Homo sapiens: one gene and its partner. The protein of the gene in region 2 interacts with the protein of the main gene of each other region in a biochemical or structural test. Each region holds a gene or a part of one and is shown on either strand. Other genes may lie near its edges.

What was found. The genes of interacting proteins can lie anywhere in the genome.
Region 1: the proteins of PSMC3IP (region 2) and MND1 form a complex in vitro, tested with the Homo sapiens proteins (one study listed by IntAct).

The regions. Positions count from the first base shown.
Region 1 is NC_000004.12:153,339,843-153,347,699, reverse strand, and holds the start of MND1 (meiotic nuclear division protein 1 homolog), read right to left. Parts: upstream 3,013-7,857; 5' UTR 2,963-3,012; coding exon 2,960-2,962; intron 1-2,959. UniProt on the Homo sapiens protein: Required for proper homologous chromosome pairing and efficient cross-over and intragenic recombination during meiosis.
Region 2 is NC_000017.11:42,571,783-42,574,733, reverse strand, and holds the end of PSMC3IP (homologous-pairing protein 2 homolog), read left to right. Parts: intron 1-399; exon of another isoform or gene 400-418; intron 419-523; coding exon 524-635; exon of another isoform or gene 636-915; intron 916-1,110; coding exon 1,111-1,256; intron 1,257-1,369; coding exon 1,370-1,423; intron 1,424-1,530; exon of another isoform or gene 1,531-1,567; coding exon 1,568-1,627; exon of another isoform or gene 1,628-1,709; coding exon 1,710-1,766; 3' UTR 1,767-2,424; downstream 2,425-2,951. UniProt on the Homo sapiens protein: Plays an important role in meiotic recombination. Stimulates DMC1-mediated strand exchange required for pairing homologous chromosomes during meiosis.

The DNA.
Region 1 (7,857 bases), on a different chromosome or scaffold from region 2:
AGGCACTCTCCCTCCAGAACTTCCCTGAGTTCACAGGCTAAGCATGTATTCCCAGAACACACCTTCATCAAATCACTCACTACATTGAAAAGATGTTTACTTGTCCGTATCAGCACACTGAAAAACTTCTTCAGAACATGAACTGCCTTTGCCTTTCCAGGGCTTAGTGCCAAGTTAGACAAGGGAGACATAAAGCTCTTAATTTTAGGACCATGTATCTAAAGCCCCCAACTCTAAAATTTGAGGCTGCTCAGGCTCCTAAGCCCCCCAACACCTACCATACTCCCATAGATATAACAGGTGAATTAATCATAGTGAATTCAGTGACATCATGTATTGCCTGGCTTGAAGAGACAAATCAGAGAAATCTCAGTTAGGCAAACTCCAGGAACCCATACAGATCTGCTCACTAAACCTAGGGCTGAGAGCTAGGGTCCAGGACTGCTCTATTTGCCTCCCTTCATTCTCACCTCTGCAGTATCTGACAAATCAAGCATGAAATTCATAACAGTTAGAAGACTCCTTCAACATATTTTTCTAGTCCAATAGGTCCTAAACTGCCATACATTAGAATCACCTCAGGAGTTTTTAAAAAATACCGATGCCCAGGCTCATCTCTAATGAATGGAATCAAAATCTCTGGAATGGGACCTGGGCAACATATTTTTTAAATCCTCCAACTTATTTTAAAAATCCTCTCCAACATATTTTTTAATTGTGCCCCAGGGTTGAGAACCCTACTTTTGTCAGCCCAGAATCTGAAGGCCATGTCAAGGGCGCTGCGGGGCAATGGGAATCCCTTTAGAATTTCAGTGTGTCGCTGCACTAGCAGAAAGCAGATCCTGAAGTGTTAGGAAAGACTCCTAACATTTTGATATTCGAAACAGCTCCTTGCACTCCACAAGAATCTGCCCCCCAGAGGCAGGCAATGAGGAGAATCTAGCGTCCTGGGGTACCCAGTTTTAGGAAAGCTCTCAACACTCAGCTCAGCAGCTATGAAAGTTACTCAAGAAATGTGGATGAGCTGTATCATCCATTTACCTTGTTTTCAGGCTGATTTATTCATCAGTCTCTTTCATGACTAGAAATAATTTCTATTATTAACCACAGTAGGAGTATCATAGCCAGAATTAAAATAACTAATGTAAAAAGATGCCATATTAATACTCATATTTAGAAACTTCTCAAAAAAATCAATGAGGATTTATCTAATATTTAATTAAGACTAGGAAAAACCTGATAGTATAAGTTAGAGATGCATTCAAATTAGTAAGTCAGGAGACTCAAAACCTGACTCAAGGACTATGAAGCTTTCTGGAAGTATTTTAAACCACTTAAAAAATCATGTTATCTGAGGAACCTTCTCAGTTAGAAGTTATGGAATTCCTACAGCCAGCCCTACTAATCAATTACGATAAAATTATGAAGAATTATTAAGTAGACATCACTGCTGCTCTCAGAGTTCAGCACTGCACTTCTCCAATTTCAAAAATTGCCTGAACTCATTAACTATTTACTTAGGATGCCTAACCAAATGAAAACAGCTATTAATTCATAATCAATCAAAAGTTTACCTTTGACCAACACTAAATTTATTTCTCGATCACATATTAAAAAATAGGAAGTCCACATCTTATCAAAAGCTTTAATTTTTTAAAAGGATTCTCTATTATCGGAGGTAAGCTTCTAAAGAGTTAACACATTTAGTATTAGCAGGTGATTCATGTGTAGAGAGATAGATTAGGTAAAAGGACAACGCGCGTTTGAGCTGCACAGTTCTCCAAGTCAGTTATACGAGGCCAGCAACTCTGCAGAGAAAAATTGTAACACAGAAGGGCACTGCTAACAGATTTGTTTTAACTGTAGTCCTGTTTGGCTCCTTAGAGCACTTCACGCCCAGGTGGCTGGGTTGTTAGTTTAACCACAAAGAAGCCGTTATCATTTATAACTACATCTGGACAAATATCTTCAAATAAATACCATACAACTGGATCCTGGTGTCCCACCCTGCCCCCCTTAGCTCGGCAACATTTAACGGCCACGTAAGTAAATGAAGATATTAAAATCTTAGATCCATTTAACCAGATGTTGATTCTTCGCCAACTGAAGCAGAAAAAACGGCATGAAACTTTGAAGGTTTATGAAAATGATTTGATGAGCAGAAAGACGTTAAGCTCACAAAGCCGATCTTACCAGGACTTAACTGATCATGACCCACGAGGAAGCCTAATTCAGTGCAGAGCGTCCTTAAAAAAGCAACAGCGCCCTACACAACCAGCAGCACCCGGCACAAGAGCAGCGACTCCTGCCCTTTGGCAGAAACCGGGGCGTTTTCACAGAAATCGACTAATTGGCACACAGTGAAGATCCATTAGGTAACTCGAAACTGAGCAGTTCTGGAATGTGCTCTACATATTACAATACAGAAAACCACTCAATGGTGACAAACCAGGAGTGCGCTTTGGGATCAAGACGTTCGCTCCCCGCAGTCCCTCCCGCCCACTTGCGCTTTCTCTCCCCGTTCTTAATGGGGGGGGCTACACCACGCGGGGCCGAAGCTGGAGGCGTAGGGAGCCCAGGTTCTCAAGGGCCCCGTGGTCTTTTAGATAAATCCAGGTTGGTGAAGTTCTCGGGTCACGTTCGCGAACGCTTCCCGCGTTCTAACCTAACCCGCCCGAACGGGCCCTGGGGACAGACGCGGGGTGCAGCCGGCGGGGAGGCCGCGGATGCCCCCGCGCCTCGGGACTCCGGACAGGAGCGGCGGGGAACGCCGCAGAGTGCGGAGTGGCTGCGGCGGGGCCGGGCTGGGCCCCTACACGGTGAGGCCGAGAGCCGGGCGACCGCTCCCGCGGCCCGGAATGGCGGTCAACGCCAGGCCGGGATCCACATGCAGCCGAGGGGCGGCGAAGCCCACACACTAGGGAGGAAGAAGACGCGGGACCGTAGCCTCAGTCCTTACCATGGCGCGGGCGCAGGGGCTTCCGCTGGCCGGGCCCGCGCTTGGGGAGAGGGGCGGGACAGGCCAGGACGCGTTTGATTTTGGCGCCGACTACGCCGCGGGGGCGGAGCAGCGAGACGGTGGAGGTGGGGGAAAGAGGCCGGTCCTCGCCCGCGCGGCGCGCAGCGACCCCTAGCGACCCATCCGAGCCGCCGGCGGGGGAAGGGGCGCGGGCCTGGGGCCGGGGCTGTGGGGAGCGTGTCCGCGTCTCAGTGGACGGGTTGCAGAGCTGCCTCCGTCTCCTCGGTATTCTGTGAATGTGACCTTTTTTTTTTTTAAGGACATCTTGCCTTTGCTTTTACTGCGTTTTCTTGGCGCCGCAGAAATATGGCCTAAGTTTGGATGTAAAAAATAGAGGCGTTTAGGCTGTTGAGGAAGGAAACGCTGCCTCCATCCTTCCGGACTTGTCCTGTCTGGGGCGGACTGGATTCCTTTCTCGTCTTCTAATCTGACCCCTCATCTTCTCCCGAGCCGCTACCCACTGCTTTCCAGCTTTTCAAATCCTGTGTATGTCTGTTTGTTTTTCCCTTAGGTTTTAAAAAAGAAGGAAACAACGGAATGAATTTCAAATCAACATGGTCAAAAATACGCTACTTCATGGCTTGAGAATAGATCCAGATTCATAGCAAAAGCTCAGGCCCCTGAAAGTGCTGAAAAATTTTAACTCAGAATTCAATTATTTTGAAAATTATTCTATGGTGTTTTGAACCATTTTTAGGTGTAAGAAGTACGGTTGGGCGCTGTGGCTCACACCTGTAATCCCAGCAATTTGGGAGGCCGAGGCGGGCAAATCACTTGAGGTAGGGAGTTTGAGACCAGCCTGGCCAACATGGTGAAATCCCATCTCTAATAAAAATACAAAAATTAGCCAGGCGTGGTGGCGGACGCCTGTACAATCCCAGCTACTCGGGAGGCTGAGGCAGGAGAATCGCTTGGACCCAGGAGGCAGAGGTTGCAGTGAGCCAAGACCCCGCCACTGCACTCCAGCCTGGGCGACAGAGTGAGACTCTGTAACACACACACACGCACGCACACACACACACACACACACACACAGTGTAGTAAGTCTTGTAGATGCTATAAGAGTAGCATCTAAAGTTGGAATTTATGTCCCCTGTTGCTTCTGCTGGAGGCAGAGGAAGGGGTACATTGAATTGCAGAGTTCCATTAATTTGGTTTTTCCTGTAAGAGTTATACCATGTAACTGATGGTACATAAGGTAATTTTAAAATGATAAATGAGTACATTAAGTAACTACAGTAGTGGTATATACATTTGTGCTACTTGGGGAAAGCCTTGTCTTAATTGGCTCTCAGGCTTGTTGCAGGTGAGTGGTGACTATCTGAGGCCAGTGGCGCTGTGGCAGAAAAATTTACCAAGGCAGTTGTAAGTAAAGAAAGGCAGAATCATTAGAGAAAGCATGAAAATACGTTGCAAGGGAGCAATGGGCAGAATCAGCAGAAAAGGAGCTGACTGCAAGGAAACAAAGGCTTGCTGGGGATTTTATAGAATAGTGCTTATGCTGTATACGGAAGAGGGCTTTGTGCAGTACTGATGTTACAGTCCCAAGTTTTCCTCCGCCCCTGCCTCTAAAGCGACACAGTGCAAAAGCCTGCCCTGGGACAGTAACAAATTGACCCAAACAGGTCTTCTTTTGGGAAAAATGAGTGCTAAATGGATATAAAAAAGGGTCACTTAAGCTGCATCTGTATCCTAAGTGTCACTGAGAGCTGCTGTGACAGTTCTCTGAGGTTCCTGTTGTGCATTGCAGTCTTGATCAACCAGACCTGGGAATCACCGCCACCTAGGAAAGAAGACACATTCTACTGCCTCTGGTTCCTTTGCATTTTCAGTACAAATACCTTAAACTTCAGATAACCTTCTGATGCCCCTTCCTTGACATTCTGAAAAGCATGACCTATAGGAGCAGCTTATTTATTTATTTAGAGTTGGGGTTTCGCTCTTTTGCCCAGCCTGGAGTGAAGTGGCATGATTTTGGCTCACTGCAACCTCCAACCCCTAGGTTCAAGCGATTCTCTTGCCTCAGCCTCCTGAGTAGCTGGGATTATAGGCGCCCACCACCACCCCCGGCTAATCTTTGTATTTTTAGTAGAGATGGGGTTTTACCATGTTGGCCAGGCTGGTCTCGATCTCCCAGTCTCAGGCGACCCATCCGCCTTGGCCTCCTAAAGTGCTAGGATTACAGGCGTGAGCCACCGTGCCTGGCAGGAGGAGCTTATAAAGGAAATAGGAAAACAAAGTCAAGTCACTTGGAAGAGACTGAGGAAAAAGTCTGCAATGTAGGAAAAGAAGTAGGAGAATGCAAAACCAAGAGAGGAGAAAATTTTAAAAGAAAAACTTTAGACAAATGAGTTCCTCTCGGCAACGTGGCCAGAGAGGTTTTTTGTTGTTGTTGTTTTGTTTTTTTGAGACAGGGTTTCACTCTGTCACCCAGGCTGGAGTGCAGTGGCACAATCATGGTTCACTGCAATCTAGAACTCCAGGGCTCGAGGGATTCTCCTGCCTTGCCCTCCCAAGTAGTTGGGACTACAGATGTGCATAACTATGCCTGGCTAATTTTTTAAAAATTTTCCATAGAGATGGTGTCTCCCTATGTTGCCTAGGCTGGTCTAGAACGCCTGGATTCAAGCAATCTTCCTGCCTTAGCCTCCCAAAGTATTGGGATTACAGGTGTGAGTCATGCCTAGCCAACAGGAAGTTTTTATAGACAGAAAAGGGAAGTGAGTTACAGAAATAGCTTGACTGATTACAGCTCCTTGTTTGAATTATTTGGCCACTGTCGGCAGCCTGTGGGCTGAAGCTCAGCTACTTGTGATTGGCTGAGAATTGGGGGTTTGTTACACACCATGCTTGGTTTTCAGTTTGTGTACCACGTTAGGTTGCAGTTCCTTACAATTCCTTAGGTAGGAACTCAAAGTGTGGAGACAGCTTCAAGCCAATGGCCGCCTGCTTATTTAACAAAATTTTAAGGAAGAAATAGTAAACATTATCAACCTGTCAGTCACAACACAGCTTCTGAGTTAGAAATGACAATGCAATCATGTCATTTGGGTAGGGCGTCATTCTCAATGGGATGACATCAAAATGGGTTCCTGGGAGACAAAAAGATCTTAGATGGTTTGTGCTCCAGTGGTTTGTGGCTCTCAGTACATAAACAGATGTACAGTATATCTCTGGTATTAAAATTTCATGGGACTGGGGATGGCATTGTGAACAGGGAAAAAACATCTAAAAAGGTTCTTTATGGGAATGGTAATGAGAAAAAAGGTTGAGAAAGACTGATGTCTAGTGAATATATAATTTATCATCCGAACTGAGACACTTCTGAGAACAGAAGGGAATGCTATTCCTATTTATGCTAGGACACAGGCATAAAGAGGATTGTCCCCATCAGCTATGTGATAACATGGAACTTCCATTATACTTTATTAACCCTTCTCCATGGCTCTTTAATTTTCCCTGTTTTATAGTTATTCTTTTAATCTTTCCATCTGGAATGTAAACTCCTTAAGAACAGGCACAGTAACATACTCTTTATAACGGTGCCTCATCAGTAATTTCTTCTTGAGAAATTCTGTGGTCTTGCCATATCAGACTATTTGTTATTCCCTGAACAACTCATGTTCTGGTGCCCTCTTTTAGCACAAGCCTGGGGGGAGTCTGAGTTCCAGGGTGACTCCAGGTGCCTGTGGGTCTACACTCACCCAGCAAGTATCCCTATGGCCAAGAGAGTATAACATTAAGTAGCAAATAAAAAACACTGTGACTGGTGGAGACACCACAGAAGAAAGGAAAATGTCTTTTTCATACTTCTTGAACAAGGGGCCTTGCATTTTCATTTTGCACCAGGCTCTGTAATTATGTAGCTAGCTCTATATGTATTCAGTTATTTGTTTCATCCCAGTAAAATGAAAGTCTGTGAGAAGAGGAGCTTTTTTTGTTTACTGCTATTCCCTAGTGAGACTAGCATAGTACCTGAACATTCTACACTCAGTAAATATTTGCTAATGAATACAGCAGTTTATGGTACTGTAAGTATCTGGTCTGTTTCTCCAAGCAGGCTGTAAGCTCTGTGAGGGTACAGGCTTCAGTATTCATCCCGGTATCCCGTCCACCTAGCCAAAAGGCTGGTGGACCAAGGGTGCTTAGACGTTTGTTTGGTCAGTGACTTTAACAGTGAAAAACAGACAGAAGAGTGAGTAGAACATCAAATGTCCACTTGCCCTTCCAGTCTCCTTAGGCAAAACTGAACTCGTTCTCTCCTCTGGAAAGGGATGCATCTGGCTTCATGTGAAATGTGCTCCTGGAGGACAATCTCAGATATGCTGAACTATGCAAGTGGCTTATGGAGGGACCCACCCTCTCTCTGATTCTGAAAACCTCCAAGGAGCCCATGATGGTGGCCTGCTTGGGTAAAAGAAAAAACAAATGAAGAATGGAAGTAGAATTCAATAATATTAATATTTACAGTTCATCGTCAGCAGTGTCACATTTGGTCTTTTTTTAAAGAGACAGTCTGTTGACTATGTTGCCCAGACTGGTCTTAAACTTCTGGGCTCAAGTGATCCTCCCACCTCAGCCTCCCAAGCAGCTGTGACTCCAGGCGCTGCCGCCATGCCTAGCTCCATGTTAGGTCTTCCTAATTTCTGTTGTTTCATCTCTCCTTCCAAGACTGACTCATGTAACCTCTTCCAGAGTTTCCATCTATGCTGGATTTTTTTTAACCCTCAAGAAAACAAAACGAATTTTTATTGTGTTCCGTCATTGTTCACAATCACGCCTGTAATCCCAGCGCTTTGGAAGCCCAGGCAGGAGATTGCTTGAGCCCAGGAGTTCAG
Region 2 (2,951 bases):
GGGAAAGGGAGGGGGAAGGAGGGAGGGAGGGAGGAAAAAGGAAGGAAGGAAGGAGGGAGAGAGGAAGGTGGAAAGAAGGATGGGAAGAAAGGACAGGAAGGAAGAAGAAAAGAAGTCCATCCATCCCATCCATCATGCTTCTTCACCTGTCCAGTTTCTATCTATTATGGAAACCCATGATCTAGGTTTCCCCACCGTGGGAACAATGTTACTTAACTGCTTCAGCCCAGGTAGTGGTTTTATCACTAAATGGGAAGATTTCTGTCCTAATCAGTATCCTGTCAACCTAGTAGCTTAAGGACAAGCATTAGATTTCAGCTTTTCTTTCCTACCTTTTTAGTGGGGCCGCTCCTTAACTGAAAACAATTTCTCAAAAGTACTCTCCCACTATTTCTGCAGACCCTCTGGAGACTTTGGGGTGTGGCTGGTTCCTGAGCATATCCAAATGGTGCCTTCCCAGGTGTGTGTTCCCATCTTTGTGCCTCACAACAGTTCACTTGTATTTTCCCTCTTTGTCTGGCAGGACCAGTTTGACATGGTGAGTGATGCTGACCTTCAAGTCCTAGATGGCAAAATCGTGGCCCTCACTGCTAAGGTGCAGAGCTTGCAGCAGAGCTGCCGCTACATGGAGGCTGGTAGGACTGGGTAGCCCCTCCAAAGTGCCCATAGGCTTAGGTTCATTCTAGAGGTCAGGAATTACTAAATGAATGGTTCAATGACTGCAGCATCTTGTTGCAGCTAAGACCCCTTTGCTGGGCTCCCTTAGGCATAAAAAGAAATGTAGGATAACTAACGGCTTTTGTGTACCAACAAATGGACAAGATACGCATTTGTTCTCCCTGCCACGATTATCAGTACACTGTCCCCACGTTTCCCTTTATTCCTGCTTCTTTAACTGGCTACGCCTAAGTAAGTGTTCAACCTCACACCCACGCCACTTGTAGATGGAGGAGGAAAGAAAATTAGAAGAATAAATAATCCTGTATGGCTTAGTTTCCATGTGAGATGATAGATCCAGAGCAAGGTGGAACACCTCAGGGAGCACCCACTGGGAAAGACAGAACTCCTTCCTCAGGGGTAGCAAGTGACCCCAGGCGGATGTGGTTTCAGAGCTCAAGGAATTATCTAGTGCCCTGACCACACCAGAGATGCAGAAAGAAATCCAGGAGTTAAAGAAGGAATGCGCTGGCTACAGAGAGAGATTGAAGAACATTAAAGCAGCTACCAATCATGTGACTCCAGAAGAGAAAGAGCAGGTGAGCTGGAAGGCTGTAGGACCGCTGTGCAGGTCCAGAGTGAACATCAGGGCTGAGCCCCAGAGGGCTGCTGTGGTTCTGAGGAGTTAGAGGAACTTGCTTTTTCCTTCTAGGTGTACAGAGAGAGGCAGAAGTACTGTAAGGAGTGGAGGAAGAGGAAGAGGATGGTAAGTGTGTGGGAGCTCCGAGACAGGCCCTGGAGGTGCCTTTGAAAATGGCAGGCACCAGATCAGCCGCTACACAATATCATAAACTGACAGGCAGTGCCCAGTGCTGCCCATCTGAAAACGGGTGGTTTTATTTCTTGTCAGGCTACAGAGCTGTCTGATGCAATACTTGAAGGATACCCCAAGAGCAAGAAGCAGTTCTTTGTAAGTGGAGCTCTCTTCCTTCTTTGCTTCCCTGTGGTCTTATCCTGGTGACATCTCATTCACTTGTCTCCCTGTCTCACAGGAGGAAGTTGGGATAGAGACGGATGAAGATTACAACGTCACACTCCCAGACCCCTGAGGGGCCCACGGTCAGGACTGGTGGGGACTGCAGGATGTCAGAAGAGTGAGATGTCTTGCACTGGCTACCTTGTTTTTGGTTGGCTTTTGTTGTTGTTCCTGCTACTTTCACCTTTAAGCAGAGCAGTCAGGAGACAAGCATAAACCAGAGCACTGGGTAGAGAGGATGAGGGCTGGTGGCTGGGGGTAGACCCAGCCCATTTCATTGTCTAAATTGCAGTAGCTTGAGGTTAACATTTAGACTTGGAACAATGCTAAAGGAAAGCATTTGGCAATATTTATTATAATTTAATTTTATATAAAAATATTTAATTTCCTCTGGATAGTCAAACCTGCCAGATATCAAACCTGAGGAAGGCAGAAGTGAATTTGGAGAACTAGGGTAGAGAGAGGTTGCTATAAAACGAGCATTTGGAGGGCCCACGGCTTCACTCAGGACCTGCTGGGCTTGTGTACCCCAGGAGCCCTTTTAAGTATCTTTTGTACGCTTTTCACCCCACCCCCAAGTCCTGGGAGAAATGCAGGCAACACTGAGACATGGGAGAGGCCAAGATATGCTTGACAGAAAGGGTGATTTTGAGGCTCAGTTAATATTTCAAAATTGTAACCGTAGCAAAACTGCATTGGTATTTAGAAAAATAAAAAATTTCCAATATGTAGTGCTGTGTTATACCTGCCTCTGCCATGCAGCATCATAGCCTGTGGGAACCGGGAGGGCTTCCCTTACCACCCAGAGCAGAGGAGGAAGGTGATGGAATATGGGGTGAGGGGAGGAACCTGGTGGCCCCTCCCTGAGATGGCCAGAAAGCCCTTGGCCTCACCTGGGACTGACCAGGCAGCCCTAGTCTAGGCACAAGGTGCCCTTTCACCCTTCATGGCTGTGGGAATATTTCCTCTTACTCTTTTTCTCCCATACAGCTACTGCCAAAATGCCCAAACTTGGGCCAAATGTTGCCCAAACTTGGGCCAAAAATGTTGCCCAAGAGACCAAAACAGAGGAAAACAGTTTCCAAATCTATGTAGATCATGAGCAGAAATCTGAGGCTTGAATAAAGGGCTGAGAGGGCAGGAGCTCTTTGGGGTGTCCAGAGCAGACGCCCATCCCAAGGACTTCCATGGAGTGGGGGGAAGGCTGGGTAGGTTTGAGTTTTATCGTCAATATAATAAATTAATCAGAAGCTTTCAC